Regions from separate parts of the Homo sapiens genome. Here region 2 is linked to region 1. Evidence: fine-mapped expression QTL. Tissue or cell type: caudate. Region 1 holds a variant in brackets; the other region holds the start of a gene. All regions are shown on one strand. Distances are from middle to middle. Region 1 holds the start of LOC112268079 (a long non-coding RNA gene). Region 2 holds the start of LINC02761 (long intergenic non-protein coding RNA 2761).

The links. PIP is the estimated chance that this variant, and not a neighbour inherited with it, causes the effect.
Region 2: LINC02761 starts here. The variant in region 1 is fine-mapped to the expression of LINC02761 in caudate (GTEx, PIP above 0.99). The same link has a PIP of 0.9 or more in skeletal muscle and visceral fat.

The regions. Positions count from the first base shown.
Region 1 is chr11:76,206,722-76,212,082 of GRCh38, forward strand. LINC02761 (long intergenic non-protein coding RNA 2761) reads right to left here. Exons shown (of 3, transcript XR_007062785.1): 3 at 4,235-4,528. LOC112268079 (a long non-coding RNA gene) reads left to right here and starts at 3,106. Exons shown (of 2, transcript XR_002957259.1): 1 at 3,106-3,198; 2 at 3,544-4,811. It also overlaps a transcript of WNT11 not described here. RefSeq lists enhancers at 238-905, 2,240-2,906, 2,525-2,574, 2,907-3,573 and silencers at 914-1,133, 3,786-3,955. The variant A/T (reference allele first, on the strand shown) is at 2,919.
Region 2 is chr11:76,213,764-76,219,124 of GRCh38, forward strand. LINC02761 (long intergenic non-protein coding RNA 2761) reads right to left here and starts at 2,327. Exons shown (of 3, transcript XR_007062785.1): 1 at 2,224-2,327; 2 at 1,462-1,529.

The sequences.
Region 1 (5,361 bases):
CCCCTCTGGCCGGGGCAGCCGGAAGGAGGGACAGGAGGCGGCAGAACCGGAGACCCAGGAGAGACCGGGCAGACACAGCGAGAGGGAGAAGGACGCTCAGAGGACAAGGCTGAGAGCCACGGAGACAGAGGGGGAAACCCGGACAGACGCAACCTGGGACGGAAAGGAGAGGAATGAGGAATCAGGAGTCCAGGCGAGGCAGCAGAGTCGAGGACCCGGAGCTGGGGCTTATCCCTGCAATATTGAGCATTAGTTAATAGGGCCTCGGCAATTCTCCTTCCCAAACGTGTTTCAGTTTACCTCCTCAGTAAGCTGGGGCAATTCGGGCACAATTCCGCTTTTATAAAGAACGTTCCCTGGCCGGGCAGGGTGGCTCACGCCTGTAATCCCAGCACTTTGGGAGGTCGAGGCGGGCGGGTCACCTGAGGTCAGGAGCTCGAGACCAGCCTGCCCAACATGGCAAAACCCCGTCTCTACTACGAATACAAAAAATTAGCCGGGCGTGGTGGCGGGCGCCTGTAATCCCAGCTACTCGGGAGGCTGAGGCAGGAGAACCGCTTGAACCCGGGAGGCGGAGGTTGCAGCGAGCGGAGATTGCGCCACTGCACTCTAGCCTGGGCGACAAGAGCGAAACTCCGTCTCAAACAAACAGACAAACAAAAAAAGTTCCCTAACACGATCGCATCTGCTCCTCCCAGCACCCCGTGAGATAGGCACTATCGCTGCCTCATCTCACAGATGAGGAAACTGAGGCACAGAGGTGGGGTTCAGCTAGGGAGCGGCAAGCCGGGTGTCCGGCGAAATCAGGAAATGGGGCTTGCTCGGGGCCCTGCTTTCTCGGTGTGGGAAGGGGAGGATGGGAAACGGGATGGTAGGGCTCTTTGTACAGTGAGGATTCCGAGTCTCCAAGTCCGTCTTTAGCCGCTCCACTTTGGAGGGTGGGAGTGGAAGCATGCGGGCTGGGACTGGGCAGCCCCGCCTTAGCGAAGCGGGGAAGCTCGCGGGGCTGGCGCGGTGTTGCCTCTGGCCTCCAGGCGGCGCCCTCGGGCCGCGGAGGAGAGGCTGCCCCGCCCGCCCGCAGCCCGCGGAGCAGCTATCTCCGCTTTTTTTCTCCTTCACTTCATTCTCACCTCATTAACTCCCTTCCCAGCTTCTCCCAAATTTACCAACACCTGGCGTTCGCCCGGAGTCAGACACAGCCCCAGCCCCTCTCCCCTCGGGAGGAGCAGAGACAAAGGGATTCCTTTCTAAGGGTTTGGGGAGTTGGAAAAGGAGGCGCCCACGGTAGTGGGGGCGCTGGAGCAGAAAAGGGACGTTCTTATCTGGCTCTGTGAGCTTGGGCAAGCCCTCAGCCACCCCAGCCTCGGTGTCCCCTTCCATAAGAACGAGGAATGGGGCTTCGCCGTGCGTCCCCCGAGGACCCCGTCTCCCTGCAGCCTGCGGGGCTCAGCGCCCCTCTGCTATTTGCACCGCGACGCCACCTGCGTGGCGCGTTCCTGCGCGTGGGTAGTCAGCACGCAGAGATGGGAAGCCCCACTGTTTTCTGGAGCCTGTCGGCAAAACCCACAGGAAGGCGAGGAGAAGCCTGGATCGTACAGTTTTTTTCCTCCGCAGAGCCCCGCAGCTAGCGCCCAGCACAGGGGCGCCTGCGACAAACATGCCGTCAAGGCTGGGGGTCTCAGAGGGGTTCTCGGTGTAACCCAGTCCCGTCCTCCCACCCAGCCTGTATCCAAATCCTTTGTCTTCCTGGTCCTGCAAGTTTCTTGCACTTCTCAGAACGAGAAAAATATCCGCTGGATATGGAGGGGGGAATCAAAACTCCAGTCACCGTCTTCCCCTCTCCCAAAGTGCGCCGCCCCCCGAAGGCACCCGGCATTCCTGGGTGGGGAGGGGGCGGGGGCTGCAAGAGGACGGAGGCGCGCGGACTCACAGCGGGGGATCTGTGTCCAGCCTGGTCTCCCAGGGAGAGGAGGAGCCCCCTAGGTCGCACAGCGGACGGGGACCCAGGCCTCCAGCCCCGCCCAGCTCTTTCGGTGCAGCCCCGGCTGTCCCAAGGCTCTCCCTCCGCCGCCCAAGCTCGTCGCGCGGGGAGGCAGCGCCTGGCCCGAGCCTCTGGGTCCTGACGGACTGTTCCTGTCCCTTGTACGAGCGCCCGGGACAGCCGCGCAGGCCACGGGGTCACCTTCCGCCTGAGCTCGCGGGTCAGGGTGCACGCGCCTCCTGAAGCCCCCAGCCCGCCAGGGGGCGCTAAGCCGGGGCTCGAGGAGGGGGGAATCGCGGCTGCCTCCTGCGTCGCGGGCTGGGGTCAAGTCCTCTTCCTGGGCCCCCGCTTCTCCGTCTGGGGATGGGACGACGTGTCGAGGGAGTGCCCCCTGTGTCCTGGTCGTTCTATAGGACACTTGCCGTGGGCCGCCCTGACCTGCCCGGCCCCTTGCTTGGGGCCGGGCGCGTAGTGGGCCGCGCCAGGCGTAGCACCTTTGGAGAGCGAGCGGTCACCTCCTCGAAGTTGGTCCGAGCTACCCTGCCTGCAGCGGGCCCGGGAGGCGGCCGCCTGGGGCTGTGCACAGGGAGAACACCACGAGCGCAGCGCCGCAGCCCAGCGCCGCCAACAGATGGTCATAGGCCCGGTCTGTGGAGGACTCTGGAAAGCCGGCCGCTGGGACCAGGCCACGCCGGCCCGGCGAGGACTTGCGGGGTCCCCCCTACCCCGACGCCCCACGGGCACCGTGCACCGGGGCCGATTGTCCGCGCGGCGCGCAAGGTCGGCACGGGCGGGTCCCGAAGCCTCCCGCCACGCAGCTCACGGAGCTGACCCCGCCAACCAGGGACGCCGAGCGACGGCTTCAAGGTTACCTGCGGGGCGGGGCGAGGCCGGGCCTGCCACCCGGCTTTGACCCCAGCCGTGAGGCTTTCGAGAG[A/T]CGTCTGCTTGGCTGCGCACGCGGCGCCGGGTCACCCGGGAGACGGGTTGTTTTGGAAGTGGGAAGGGTGGGTGGGAGCACTCGAGATCCCTCCTGCTAACCCCCTGGAGCCGGACCCTGCACGCCCAGGGCCTTGAGGGACACCGAGGCACTTCAGCCCCGGGGGTGGGAGGCGTGGAGCTCGTGCGCGAGCTCAGCCAGATGTTCCGGGCGGTTGCAGATGTGCCTCGGGGCCGGGGACAGGACTTTCCTCCTCCCTAGCCCCCAGCCTGGAGCTCAGGTCAGTAAACAAACTCGGTTCTCCCCCTCCCCCCGCCGCCCCTGGGACCCGTTCTCAAAGCCAGGCTTCTGCCCCCATCCCCAATTTACTAGGCGCTGCCGCATTTCTTTGCCTTTTGCCACCCTTTCCCCCCGCCCACCACACACACCCTCTGTCGCGGGATCCAAGTCCCCCACCCCCGGGGGTGGCTCGGGCATGACCTCATCCGCCGAACGACTGGGAAGGAGGGGGTCGCCTGGGGTGCGGGGGCAGAAGAGGGGGGCCGGGCCGGGAAAGTTCGAGGAGGGCCGCAGGAACTGCACAACCCACCACCGTCCCGCGTGCCCCTAAACCCCGCGTCCCCAGGCTCCCGAGGCTTCGCTCCGCAAAGGGGAACTCTTCGGAGTGCTGCGGGGGAAAGGTATGGAGGAGCGCTTGGTTTGCTTACCCGGGAGTGGGTGCCCAAGGGGGTCGTGGCGGGTGCGAGAAGCGTCGTCCCCCTCGGACTCGGGCGCCCCCAGCCCTGGCGGGTCCCCGCTGAGCGGCTGCCCGCTGCCCGCGACCACTGCTCACCTCCCGGGGCGCTCGCCAGGCGCGCCCTGCGTGCCCGGGTGCCCCGGCCTGCCCAGGGAGCGGCGAGTGCGGTTTCCAGCGGGCCCGTGCGCACTCCGGCTGGGCGAGCGGCGAAGGCGCCCTCTTCGTGAAGCGGCGCGAGAAGGACGCCGGGGATCCTGGCAAGCTGCGGCCGGCTCAGGACCCGCGCGGAGTCAGGCGCGGACTCCGGCTGCTCTCTGCTGCGCTCAGCTCCCGTGGCCTGTGCTCGCCGCTCGCCCGAGCTCTCCTCCTCGCCTGGCGCGATCTCCGGCGCGAGCCTCCCAAACTGCTTTATAAGGCGGGCGGCCGCTTTGATCCGCCCACGTCAGCGCGTCGCAACCCCACCGGGTGGCCCCGGCCGCGCGCGGGGGGCGGGGGCGGGGTCCCCGCGGACGCCACTGACCGGCGGCGCCCGCCGCTCCAGAGAACTTAGTACTCTGTCGAGTTACAAAGGGGGACTCGCTCACTACAGCTGGTGTTTACTAAGCGTGCGTGCTGCGTGCCTGCGACACGCGTGGGGCCCGGGTAAGGCCCATCTCGAATCGTCGCAGCAACCAGGCAAGGAGCCTCAACTGGCAGGGGGAAGTCAGACTTGGGTCTCAGTCTGGAGCCGGGGCATCCTTAGGTGTTGGTCGCGCAGCGTGGTTACTGTAGACGTCTGAGGTCCCGAAACCTGCCTTCGTGTCCTAGTCCTGGTCCTTCGGGGGGCCATCTCTTCTGGCCTCTGGTTCCAGTTGTGGAAAAGGAATCAACGATCCTGCAAGAGAAAGAGACACGAGGACTCCGCGCTACAAAGCCCGCTGTAAACCTTAGGTGTGGAGCTGGGCGGCGTCCCAGCCGTTGGGGTGACTGCTGGGGAGTGTTCTGGACACAGGGGAGGGGGAGCAGAGGAGGACTGGGTTTCCTAAGTTAAAGGAGCCTAGAGAGGCACCTCCTGCGTCGAGTAGCCCAGGCGTGTGGTGCTTCTGGACCCCCTCACTTGGCCTCCCCTGAGCAGACCAGCTGCTTACCCCACAACATGACTGCGATTTCTAACTGCCCATCGGGTGCTGTGGGTTCATCCATGTCTCCCCCTCCTTCTAGGGGCCTCAATCCCAGGACGTCCTCAAGGATAACTGGTTCATTAGCAGAAAGGGAAATGGAGACTTAGTGAGGACACGGAGCCTGTCTCAGGTCCCCCAAAATGCCTGACATTCTTTTCCCCATTCTTTGCAGCTGCAGATGAAGTGGCACTCCTAGGCTGCCCCACACCCAGCTACAGGTACCTCCACATACAACACAAACATCTGGGCCCACAGTGCCCATAGCAGCCTCCCAGCCATACCAGTACTCCCACACAGCCAGTCCTCACACACAGGCTGGGGCATATCACCCCGCATATGGTTACAAACACACTCGGGAGATACCAGGACATATCATCTGCCCTCACACACAGTAGCACAGAGGTGTGAAATGGCCGTACACACATCATGAAGGGGAGGCTGCACACAGACCACCTGCGCGCACACAGTTCAGGTGCAAACATGCGTGAGCTTCCATGCACACACAGCTCCCAAGTGTACAATGCCTAACATGTACTTCTGCACACAA
Region 2 (5,361 bases), 7.0 kb after region 1:
TAAGCCCACTACCCCTACTCAGACCTCAGCACTTTATCCCTCCCACAACAACAAAGGCTTTTCCAGAGAAAGCCAAAAGCAGCCAGTAAGGAGAAGGGTCAAGATCACGCACCCTGGGCCACGACTTTGTGGTGTGTGAAGGGGGGATGTGGTGGGGCACCGCTCAGCTCACCGCTATCGCTTCACCAAGGGACTCAAAAGAGAGTGACAGCTAGGTGTGGTGGCTCACGCCTGTAATCCCAGCACTTTGAGAGGACGAGGTGGGTGGATCACTTGAGGTCAGGAGTTCAAGACCAGCCTGGCCAACATGGCGAAACCCCATCTCTACTAAAAATACAAAAATTAGCCAGGTGTGGTGGCAGGCACCTGTAATCCCAGCTGCTTGGGAGGCTGAAGCAGGAGAATCGCTTGAACCTGGGTAGCAGAGGTTGCAGTGAGCCAAGATGGTACCACTGCACTCTAGTCTGGGTGACAGAGCAAGACTCATCTCAAAAAAAAAAAAAAAAAAAAAGCGACAGTGTTTTGCTCCACTTTTGCTGTGTACAGTCTCTGTGGCATCATCCACAAGCACACGCCTCTCCCTCCCATGTCTGCGGGTTGGCTGGGGGCAGCTGGCATGGGCTGGACTCATGGGTCCCAGGCTCCTGGTTGGGTTTGGACCTGCTCCATAGATGACTCTTTCTAGCCTGGAACCAGCACTCCCTGGGCCATGCTCTTCTCACCACCAAACCAGCCTGTGCCATAGGACGAGCCATGAATGTGAATGAAGGAAGACCACAGGTACTCTCCCTCTCCCGACCCCAGGCCACCTGGCAGATGCTGGCTTCCCAGAACCATTTTTGTTTTGTTTTGTTTTGTTTTGAGACAGAGTTTCGCTCTTGTTGCCCAGGCTGGAGTGCAATGGTGCAGTCTCAGCTCACTGCAACCTCCACCTTTTGGGTTCAAGCGATTCTCATGCTTCAGCCTTCCAAGTAGCTGGGACTACAGGTGCCCACCACCACACCCGGCTAATTTTTGTATTTTTAGTAGAGACAGGGGTTTCACCATGTTGGCCAGGCTGGTCTCAAACTCCTGACCTCAGGTGATCCACCCACCTTGACCTCTCAAAGTGCTGGGATTACAGGCATGAGGCACTGCACCGGCCAGAACCATTTTTTGAGATCCCTCATCCTGGTCCTGGACACATCTCGAGGGAGGGCAGGGCAGGGCAGAGGCCGTCATCACCATTTCCCATTTCTCATTGGTTACAATGAGACTAAAGCGTACTGCTTCCACCACCAGGGTGCTTTTAGAAAGGCCTTTCTGAGAAGACACATGAACAGGGGGTCTGAGCAGAGGAACCCAGCCCAGCTGTTTCTGGCATGCCCTGTGAGGCCAGATCTTCCAGGCAAGGGTGGGGTAAGGGGACAAAATAGCAGCAGGCCTGTCATCAGAGCACCTGGGCCTGGCTGTCAGACTCACCTCCTCCACTTACCCACCGAGGGACTCCGGGGAAGTCACTCAGCCTCTGGGATCCTTAGTTTCATCATCTGCAAAACAGAAAGCCACGAAACCACTCCTTCTCGATGTTATTGAGAAATAATGTTGTAAGAAGTCATATTGGTTGAACAAGCACCTACTGTGTGCTAGGCAGTTTCTGTGCCTATGCCTGAGACAGGCATTGCTCTGCAGATAAGCACACTGGGCCAGGTCTGTCAGGTAATTCATACAAGATCTCTCTGTCAGTGAGTGGGCCTGGCTGCAAACCCCGGGTCTGTGGGTTTCTGGAACCTCTGCCCACTGCCCAGGGTAGGGTATGTCTTCCTCCTCCCCTTCAGTTACCTCAGGGGAGGTATTGTTATTTTACAGGGCTCAGGGAGCAGGCCTGGGGGCACCACGGAGAGATGGGAGGTGTCTTTCCTGGGTGCACATAACAAAATGCCACCCGTCATGTCTACTGAGGGCGTCACATCTGAAAGCCTGCTTTCAACTCTCAGTTGTTTAATCATGGTGGTGGCTGCTCAGGAGACAATGTGTGTGTTTCTCAGGCCTCTTTCAGCTCCAGGAGAGAAGAAACCCAACCCCAACCAGCTTCAACACCAGAGAAACTGGTTCCTGCAGGAGAAACTGGGGTGGCTGGTGGCCCTACTGCACTCAGGAGGGCTCAGGGCTGGTGCTGGTCCCCTGGAGATGCTGTGCTGTCTCAAACTCACTTCTCCTTCTTCCTCCTCTCTTTGAACTCACCCGGGCCTCATTTCTCCCCATTGGGATGCAGCCACCAACAGCCCCAGTTAGAAATTCCAGTCAAATGAGACCTCTGTCTCCTTGGGCCTCTGAATCAGTCCCAGGGAAGGCGGCTGATTGGCCTTGTTTGAGTCACGCACTCTCCCTCTGATGGACATCTGTTATTGCCACGGGAAACTGGCTCTGGGCATGGCTGGGTGCAGTGCCTGTCACCAGAAGAGGAGGCATAGGAAGCAGTGGGCCACAGGGGCATTTGTGTCAGGATGGCAGTTTCTTTTATGGTTGGGCCTCTGCTTCTCTGATATGTGTACAAATCAGCGTCTCTGCACCTGGGAGAAGAGAGGCGGCATTGTCTGAGTTTCACCCCATCACACGCACACACAGGGCCAGAGACCTACCATGCTCAGTGCCCCGACTGTACACATAGAGAAACTGACGCCGAGAGAGGGGTCGCACATCACTCGGTTAGTGGTGCAGGAGACAGATATCAGGTCTCCTGACATCCAGGCATAAGCCATGCAGTTATTTGTCACTGGTTCTGAAGCCTTTCTGAGCAGGCCAGTGAGGCAGCTTTTTAGTAGCACCAATTCCTCCCATCCCAGAACATAAAGACTCTTTGGAATGTGACTCCATGCAAAAGCGAAGGCTCTGTCCCCACCCCTCCATCTGGGCTGACCTCATGGCTTGCTTGACTAGTAGATGTAGCCTGTGTTCTGCTGCCCAGGACTCGGGGCCTTGCAGCTTCTGCCTTCACCCTGTTGGGGCCCAGCCCAGCTGCAAGGTCAGAAGCCCAGGCTGGGGCAGAGAGAGGCCTTGCTGTATCGGCTGGCCCATCAGTCAAATGCAGCCACGCGAGCGAGCCCAACAAGGTCAGCAGAGCTGCTGGGTCAGCCCACAGAAGCACGAGAGTCAATTATGGCTTTAAACTACTAAATCTTGACATGGTTTGTTATGTAGCAATAGAGACAAGAAGCAGCCAGGCTTAAAGAGTGAAAAAGCTAAATATATACACAATTATTTGTCTAATGTCATTTCAGAATCTTAGAATCTTACCGTTGGGCCACCCCCTCTCATAACCCCAAGGTGCTGGCCACCAGAGGCCCTGTAATGTCTCCACTGATCTGGGGCAGCATGTGGCCAGTGATAGCTCTGTCATGTGCTGCTATGTCCCCAGTACTGCACCAGGGCTGGACAAACAGTAATTGCTCCAAAGTTGCCAGGGATTGGAGCTCACTCCCTCCAGGATGGTGTCTTCCATTATGAATGGCTCTGTCTTGGAGAAGATCCTCCTCCGTCTAGAGCAGAGACCTCTGATTCCCCCAGGGGTCCTGGCTGTCTTCCTGGGGTCCCCTCTTATATAGGATAGCCTTAGGCACATCACGATGGTCCCTAGCATTACAAAGCAGCACAACCTCACTTAATAACAAGTATTTTTATGTACATGGTGTCCCCGGACACAGATATAACCCTAAGGGAAGTGCTTCCACCTGGCCCTAAAACAAGCATGGGCTCTGGATCACACAGTTTGGGGTTGCAACTCGAAAGCAACTTCTGTTTGGCCTTGGAAGAGACACTTCATGTCTCTGAGCCTCAGTTTTCTCACCTGAAAAATAGGAGGAGTGAAATTTATTGCCTGGGTTGCTGTGGGGCTTAAAGGAGAGATGATGTATGTAAAATGCTCAGCACGTAATCGGTCCTTGATAAAGGTTAGTTCCTTTTCTGCCAGGTACGTAAACAGTTCCAGATGGAGAGCTCATCTGTACTTAGCATTCATGTCTATATAAATAATGTGCAGGTGGGAGAGGAATTGTCAGGTGGCCGGGGAAGGGGGAGGGCGTTCCCAGCAGGGGAACAGTGTAAGCAAAGACAAGAAGAAGTTTGCTTTCAGAGAAGGGTAAGTGGGTGGTTCGGTGCTGCTGGCATGAAGAGCAACAGGAGGGAGAATAACGGGAGAGGAAGCCAGGCCCATGCCACGGAGGGCCTTCAGTGCTGGGCTAGGGAGCTTGGGCTTTGCCAAGAGAGACATGGAGGAGGTCTGAAGAGGGAAGGGGTAAGGTCAGGTTTGGGATTCAAGTCTGGGGCAGGTCTGGGGTTGGATGGGGAGGTGAGGGGAGATGGAGCTCCTGGAAGCCTATGAGGGGAAAGTGGGGTAGCAGCAGGAATGACTTGGGCTAGTGGAGGGGAGGGACAGCCTGGCCACTAATGCAGCAGCTGAGCCACCTGCATGGACACATCTGTTGTGGGAAGCAGGGCCCTTAGTCCTCTGGTCTAGCACCTCTGCTCTGCATCTTCAGTGCCAAGCCCTGTTGGGAAGAGCACTTTTTCTGTCCTTTTCAATCCAGGAACAGACTGTGAGAGGGAGAAGACCTGGGCTAGATCTGTAGCCAGAAGGATGCGGGGTAGACCAGAGGGGAACTGACTTACCTGTCTGTTTGGTGGGGATTCAGAGAAGTCCCTCTCAAGGTCCGTTTGCTCATTTTATTAACCATCCCAGACCTCAAGTTGAGCTTTCCAGTTTTCTAAGCCCTGCCACAGTTATGGGCAGGCTCCTTTGAGACTTGCCACTGGCTTGAGAGGGAGGCTGGGCAGAGGTGATTAGCTCTGTTGTTAAGATGGGGAGACCTAGGCCCAGAGAGGGCAAGTGACTTACCCAAGACCACACAGCAAGTGCATAGCAGAGCTACCCTGGAACCCAGTTCTCCTGCCTCCCACTAACATCCTAGTTCCTTTCCATGGCACTGAGGGACAGGCAGGACGTTCTCACTTACCTGCTCTGGGTGAAGAGTGAGGAGAGCCAGAGAGAGGTTGACAGCCATCAGCAGACAACACTTAACCCAAACTGACAATTTAATTGTGAAAATGTGGACGAGGTATAGTTATGTGCAAGGAAATCCAGACGGTCTGGGCCCCTGGGGAGCCTCGGCCAGCACCCCAGTTGCCAGGGAAACAGGAGAGGGTTGTGGATGATGTCACTAGACTCTGAGCCGAGGCTGAGGTATGGGGGTGGGCTCTCCATCCACCTCTTTGGGGCTGTAGGCTCTCATCCTCACGTTTAACCCCTTCTCTTACAGATGGGAAAACGAGAGCTCCAGGGAGAGGTGGTGACTTGCCCAAGGTCACACAGGGAATCAGTGCCTG